Linked DNA regions of Homo sapiens. The protein of the gene in region 2 purifies or fractionates together with the protein of the main gene of each other region. This does not show direct contact. Each region holds a gene or a part of one and is shown on either strand. Other genes may lie near its edges.

Region 1 (3,500 bases), on a different chromosome or scaffold from region 2:
ATGGGGTCTCACTCTGTTGGTCCAGGCCGGAGTGCTGTGGCGTGATCTCCACTCACCACAACCTCTGCCTCCCGGGTTCAAGTGATTCTCCTGCCTCAGCCTCCTGAGTAGCTGGGACTACAGGCGCGTACTACCATGCCTAGCTAATTTTTGTACTTTTAGTAGAGAAGGGGTTTCACCATGCTGGCCAGGCTGGTTTCGAACTCCTGACCTTGTGATCCACCCGCCTCAGCCTCCCAAAGTGCTGGGATTACAGGCGTGAGCCACCGCGCCCGGCCAGTAACATATTTCTTAGGATCTACTCAACCTTGAGAATACCAGTGAGCAATCCACCTCCCACTGTACATTGCATATAGAGAAGACACTGAGCCCTAAGCCCAACACAGTTCCCCTTCCTTGTGTCCAGCTCCTAATTTCTCACCTGTGTAATATGACCACACCTCCCCAGTCTGGACTGTTCCTGAGGCTATGGGCAATGTGCACAGCCAGGTCTCTGAGCAGATTCAGGTTATTCTGAAATGGATATGGTAACTCAGTAGATAAATGGAAAGGATAACAATAGAGAGTATCAGCTTCCCTCCACCTCATTCTCCCCTCACTCCCACTTTGACAAACTACACATCTGTTTAGGCAGAAGACCAAGTCTGCAGAGCCTATCCTAGGCAGGGCCCATGCCCTCTCTACCCTCCATGGAATAAATCACCTTCTGCAGGATCTTGGTGGAGTTCTGGAGCTTTTTCACTGCTTCCACATGATCCTCTGCTCCACACCTGAAAGAGAAAGGTCAGAGGAGACCTGCGCAGCTTCCCAGTCGTTTCTGATGTTGGGGACATAAATCAATAATTTCCTTCTTGCTATGGTGCCTCCCTGCAGTCAGGGACCAGGAGATATTCTGAGGAGGTCTCTTAGGCAACTGGGAGAAAACATACAAAGGAATTAACCACTTTTCGTGGTTCTGATTTACTATCCAAAGCACTTGATCTTTTTTTTTTTTTTTTTTTTGAGACAGAGTCTTGCTCTATCGCCCAGGCTGGAGTGCAGTGGAACGATCTTGGCTCACTGCAAGCTCCACCTCCCGGGTTCACGCCATTCTCCTGCCTCAGCCTCTCGAGTAGCTGGGACTACAGGCGCCCACCACCATGCCTGGCTAAGTTCTTTTTGTATTTTTAGTAGAGACGGGGTTTCACGGTGTTAGCCAGGAAGGTCTTGATCTCCTGACCTCGTGATCCGCCCACCTCGGCCTCCCAAAGTGCTGGGATTACAGATGTGGGCCACCACGCCTGGCCGCACTTTATCATTTACGATTGCATCTTATCTCCCAGAGGTAAGAGATTATGTCGAAAATCTCAGAAATGGGAGGTAATCGAAGGTACTGAAACAGGCATACTTAAGCAGAGCAGTCAGTGCTTTTTCAGTTCCATGACTTCTCTCCATCCACTTCAGCACCCGGTTCCCAGACAGAAATATCAGGTTGGTTCTGTTCTTTTTCCCCTTCTCAGTGCCCAGAATCTTAATGACCTACATGAGGCAAGGGGGTAACACACACACACACGTGTGCACATGCATAAACCACAGCGGATCCTAGAACCTGAAGGCAGGAGAAACCTATCTGTTCCTCAGCTCTGAAACAGTGAAGGGGAGATTTCACTTAGGACTCCTCGATTATCCCCCTCTCCCACTCCCAGCCCCATGTGATCCCCTCTCCCCCAATCCCTCTTCTCAGCCACTCCACAGCCGTTCCTCACTTACCTGAAGGTCACTGAGATTGCTCACATGGGTCCCACAGCACATGTTGGAATCAACGCCCTCGATGTTAACAACCCGAATGGGCCCAGCATGATCATCAGGCAAACCCCGGCCACTCACCTGGACTCAAGGAGAGGGGAGGGACTGTCTGAATCTGATGAGGAATCATTCCGCAGAAACCATCCCTCTGGCTCTACCCTTACCTGCTCCACCTCAGGATCATCCAGGCTCAGTTCTCGGACATTCACAGGCAGCCGATCTCTGATTTTTTCATTGACGCTCTGCTCAATGGCAGCTACTTGCTCTGCAGTCATAGAGGGGGTGTCCAGCTCAATCGCACTCCGAAATCTCCCTAACTCCCTGTCAGAAGTACAGTGGCCACAGATAACATATCTTACTGAACAAGAAAAAGCTGAAAGCTTTTCCTCTAAAAACTGGAACAAGCATACCCTCTCACCACTTTTTTTTTTTTTTTTTTTTTTTTTGAGACGGAGTCTCGCTCTGTCGCCCAGGCTGGAGTGCAGTGGCGCGATCTCGGCTCACTGCAAGCTCCGCCTCCCGGGTTCACGCCATTCACCTGCCTCAGCCTCCCGAGTAGCTGGGACTACAGGCGCCCGCCACCACGCCCGGCTAATTTTTTGTATTTTTAGTAGAGACGGGGTTTCACCGTGTTAGCCAGGATGGTCTCGATCTCCTGACCTCGTGATCCGCCCGCCTCGGCCTCCCAAAGTGCTGGGATTACAAGCGTGAGCCACTGCGCCTGGCCTTTTTTTTTTTTTTTTTTAAGACAAGCTCGCTGTCACCCATGCTGCCATTTGGTGGCAATCACAGCTCACCACAGCCTTAATCTCCCCGGCTCAAGCAATTCTCCCACCTCCGCCTCCCTCCCAGTGCTGGGATGGGCCTGCCTACAGTTAGTCTTATGCCTCCCACTCACCATGATGTTGTCTTCAGCTTAAATAGATGGTCAGCAACTGCCGTGATGAGATGCTGCCCTAAGCAAAGAGAGCCAGAGACAGGAGAAAAGTGAGAAGCCTACATACTCCCACAATGATAAAATATGAGCTACAATGATAAAAGCACAGAAATTCTCCTTGTTGAAGACCTGCTAAGCACTGGGTAATACACTTTAGATACTTTATTGAAAATCACAATGAGAATTCTGCAAGAGGCCTTATGATACCATTTCACAGATGAGGAAACTGAAGCCTAGAGAGATCAAATAACTTGCCATGGCAATGTAACTTATAAGGGGCTGGACTTGAACTTAACTTCCTTTTTTTTTTTTTTTTTTTTTTTTTGAGACAGTCTCATTCTGTTGCCCAGGCTGGAGTGCAGGGGCTCACTGCAGCCTCCGCCTCCCAGGATCAAGCAATTCTCGTGCCTCAGCCTCCTGAGTTGCTGGGATTATAGACGTGCATCACCGTGCCCGGCTAATTTTTCTACTTTTAGTAGAGATGGGGTTTCACCACGTTGGCCAAGCTGGTCTTGAACTCTTGACCTCAAGTGATCCACCTGCCTTGGCCTCCCAAAATGCTGGGATTACAGGTGTGAGCCACTGTGCCCAGTGAACTTAAGTTCCAATATGCAGCATTCATCCATTCAACAAGTATTTATTGAGTACCTACCAAATGCAAGGCACAGGGCTTGACATAAGAGATACAGCAGCATCCCTGATTGACAAGAGTGATGATGAGGAGAAAGAAGAGGAAGAGGAGGAGGAAGAAAAGGAGAAAGAGGAGGAACTATCAAGG
Region 2 (3,500 bases):
CCTTAAGCTGATAAGCAACTTCAGCAAAGTCTCAGGATACAAAATCAATGTGCAAAAATCACAAGCATTCCTATACACCAAGAACAGACAAAAAGAGAGCCAAATCATGAGTGAACTCCGATTCACAATTGCTTCAAAGAGAATAAAATACCTAGAAATACAACTTACAAGGGATGTGAAGGACCTCTTCAAGGAGAACTACAAACCACTGCTCAAGGAAATAAGGGAGGACACAAACAAATGGAAAAACATTCCATGCTCATGGATAGGAAGAATCAATATCCTGAAAATGGCCATACTGCCCAAAGTAATTGATAGATTCAATGCCGTCCCCATCAAGCTACCACTGACTTTCTTCACAGGAAAAAACTACTTTAAATTTCATATGGAACCAAAAAAGAGTTTGTATAGCCAAGACAATCCCAAGCAAAAAGAACAAAGCTGGAGGCATCACGCTACCTGACTTTAAACTATACTACAATGTTGTAGTAACCAAAACAGCATGGTACTGGTACCAAAACAGATATATAGACCAATGGAACAGAACAGAGGCCTCAGAAATAACACCACACATCTACAACCATCTGATCTTTGACAAACCTGACAAAAACAAGCCATGGGGAAAGGATTCCCTATTTAATAAATGGTGTTGGGAAAACTGGCTAGCCATATGCAGAAAACTGAAATTGGGTTCTCACTCATAGGTGGGAATTGAACAATGAAAACACTTGGACACAGGGTGGGGAACATCACACACCAGGGCCTGTCGTGGAGTTGGGGGGAGAGGGGAAGGATAGCATTAGGAGATATACCTAATGTAAATGATGAGTTAACGGGTGAAGCATACCAACATGGCACATGTATACATATGTAACAAACCTGCACGTTGTGCACATGTACCCTAGAACTTAAAGTATAATAATAAATAAATAAATAAATAAACATAAAAATAAAATAAAAAAAGAAAACTGAAATTGGACCCCTTCCTTACACCTTATACAAAAGTTAAATCAAGATGGATTAAAGACTTAGACATAAGACCTAAAACCATAAAAACCCTAGAAGAAAACCCAGGCAATACCATTCAGGACATAGGCATGAGCAAAGACTTCATGACTAAAACACCAAAAGCAATGGTAATAAAAGCAAAAATTGACAAATGGGATCTAATTAAACTAAAGAACTTCTGCACAGCAAAAGAAACTATCATCAGAGTGAACAGGCAACCTACAGAATGGGAGAAAATTTTTGCAACCTACTCATCTGACAAAGGGCTAATATCCAGAATCTACAAGGAAGTTAAACAAATTTACAAGAAAAAAACAAACAACCCCATCAAAAAGTGGGCAAAGGATACAAATAGACACTTCTCAAAAGAAAACATTTATGCAGCCAAAAGACACATGAAAAAAAGCTCATCATCACTGGTCGTTAGAGAAATGCAAATCAAAACCACAATGAGATACCGTCTCATGCCAGTTAGAATGGCAATGATTAAAAAGTTAGGTAACAACAGATGCTGGAGAGGATGTGGAGAAATAGGAATGCTTTTACACTGTTAGTGGGAGTGTAAATTAGTTCAATCATTGTGGGAGACAGTGTGATGATTCCTCAAGGATCTAGAACCAGAAATACCATTTGGCCCAGCAATCCCATTACTGGGTATATACCCAAAGGATTAGAAATCATTCTACTATAAAGACACATGTACACATATGTTTATTGAGGCACTGTTCACAGTAGCAAAGACTTGAACCAACCCAAATGCCCATCAATGATAGACTGGATAAAGAAAATGTGGCACATATACACCATGGAATTCTATGCAGCCATTAAACAGGATGAGTTCATGTCCTTTGCAGGGACATGGATGAAGCCGGAAACCGTCATTCTCAGCAAACTAACACAAGAACAGAAAACCAAAAACTGAATGTTCTCGCTCATAAGTGGGAATTAAACAATGAAAACACATGGACACAGGGAGAGGAACATCACACACTGGGGCCTGTCAGTGGATGGGGGACTAAGGGAGGGATAGCATTAGGAGAAATACTTAATGTAGATGACGGATTGATGGGTGCAGCAAACCACTATGGCACGTGTATACCTATGTACCTATGTAACAAACCTTCAGGTTTTGCACATGTGTCCCAGAACTTAAAGTATAATTTAAAAAATAAAAATAAATAAAATAATTAGAACAAAGTCCAGCAGTATAGAGAATTAGGTAATAATCAATAGGAACAGACAAATCTAATGTTGAAATAGAATAATAGATCCAGAAATTAATTCTAAAGTCTTATTTATGGTTCTTTAATGTGTCCTTGATATTAGCTTGCAATTAGCTCCATCAAGTGATAGTATCCAACGTAAAATGGGCTTAGCAATTTCTTGCTTCTCATGCTGCTTTTATATCTCTCTTCTTTCACATTCTTGGAGTCCCCAACAACAGGGCAGAGGCTGAAGGGCACAGATCTTTTGTGTCGTATGGCTTGGCCTCCATTGAAGTAGGTGAGGGTGACCATCCCTGGTACGGAAAGACAGGTCCGGGCAGGCCACAGTCTGGCTCTCCTGCCTGGCTTCCTGGGAATAATTGAGCAATTGCTCTGTACCAGGCGGGGTTCTGAATGCTTCCACGTCCCAATTTCAATCACTTCTGCAAGGTGACGCAGCTAGGAAAGATGTGACTCAGGCCACTCTGGCATCCAGGACTCACCTCCTCTTCTGACCTCTCGTCAGCCTGCTGTATTAGCTGGGCCGCCCTTCCCATGTTGACCTCCTCCCATATCTGAGCGTTGGCCTCACAGGCAGCGTCATGAAGCTGCCACCATCCCTGTCCCCCTTTGGTTCAGGCCACAGGGATGCCTGGAGCTGGGAACGGCCCTGCGTAGCACTGACTGCAGAGTCTTCAGTGCGTGTGTCTCTGTCTCCTTTACTGAACTGTGAGCGCCTAAGGAGGGGCCTTCCATCTGCTAGTTTATCCCTGGAATGTATCTCAATGCTTGGCAGAGGATAAGCGTTACATGTTGGATACATTAATTGATCCTAAGATTCTAAGCACTAAATTTTACGAGAAGTAGCAAAAATGACCTGAATGTAGTCGCACTGTATCTTTTCAATGATCCAAACAGCTGACTCCCTGGGCTTACGCCTTCATAACGCTGGAACCCCCTCCCGCCCGCTTTGTTCCTCTCCCTCTTGCAGCAGATGGGATCAGAGCGGATGGAGATGCGGAAGCGGCAGATGCCCGCCGCCCAGGACACACCAGGCGCCGCCCCAGGCCAGCCCGGAGCGGGGAGTCGCGGGTCCAACGCATGCTGCTTCTGCTGGTGCTGCTGTTGTAGCTGCTCGTGGTAAGGTTTGGGGCTTTTTAATGAATGTGCTCCTGACTGGGAAGTGTAATGTGCTCCTGACTGGGACGTGGCACCCCTGAAAGTGGTGGCAGCTTATGGTTAATTCAATAAGTGTTTTTTAAGCAACTACTATATGCCTGACACACA

The links.
Region 1: the proteins of RGS20 (region 2) and AARSD1 purify together in Homo sapiens (affinity purification with mass spectrometry, with the first as the bait; 2 studies listed by BioGRID). This does not show direct contact.

The regions. Positions count from the first base shown.
Region 1 is NC_000017.11:42,954,455-42,957,954, forward strand, and holds part of AARSD1 (alanyl-tRNA editing protein Aarsd1), read right to left. Parts: intron 2,742-3,500; coding exon 2,684-2,741; intron 2,107-2,683; coding exon 1,950-2,106; intron 1,867-1,949; coding exon 1,750-1,866; intron 1,519-1,749; coding exon 1,388-1,518; intron 771-1,387; coding exon 704-770; intron 514-703; coding exon 422-513; intron 1-421. Other genes in the region: PTGES3L-AARSD1 protein, read right to left, coding at 422-513, 704-770, 1,388-1,518, 1,750-1,866, 1,950-2,106, 2,684-2,741. UniProt on the Homo sapiens protein: Functions in trans to edit the amino acid moiety from incorrectly charged tRNA(Ala).
Region 2 is NC_000008.11:53,936,372-53,939,871, forward strand, and holds part of RGS20 (regulator of G-protein signaling 20), read left to right. Parts: intron 1-3,204; coding exon 3,205-3,353; intron 3,354-3,500. UniProt on the Homo sapiens protein: Inhibits signal transduction by increasing the GTPase activity of G protein alpha subunits thereby driving them into their inactive GDP-bound form.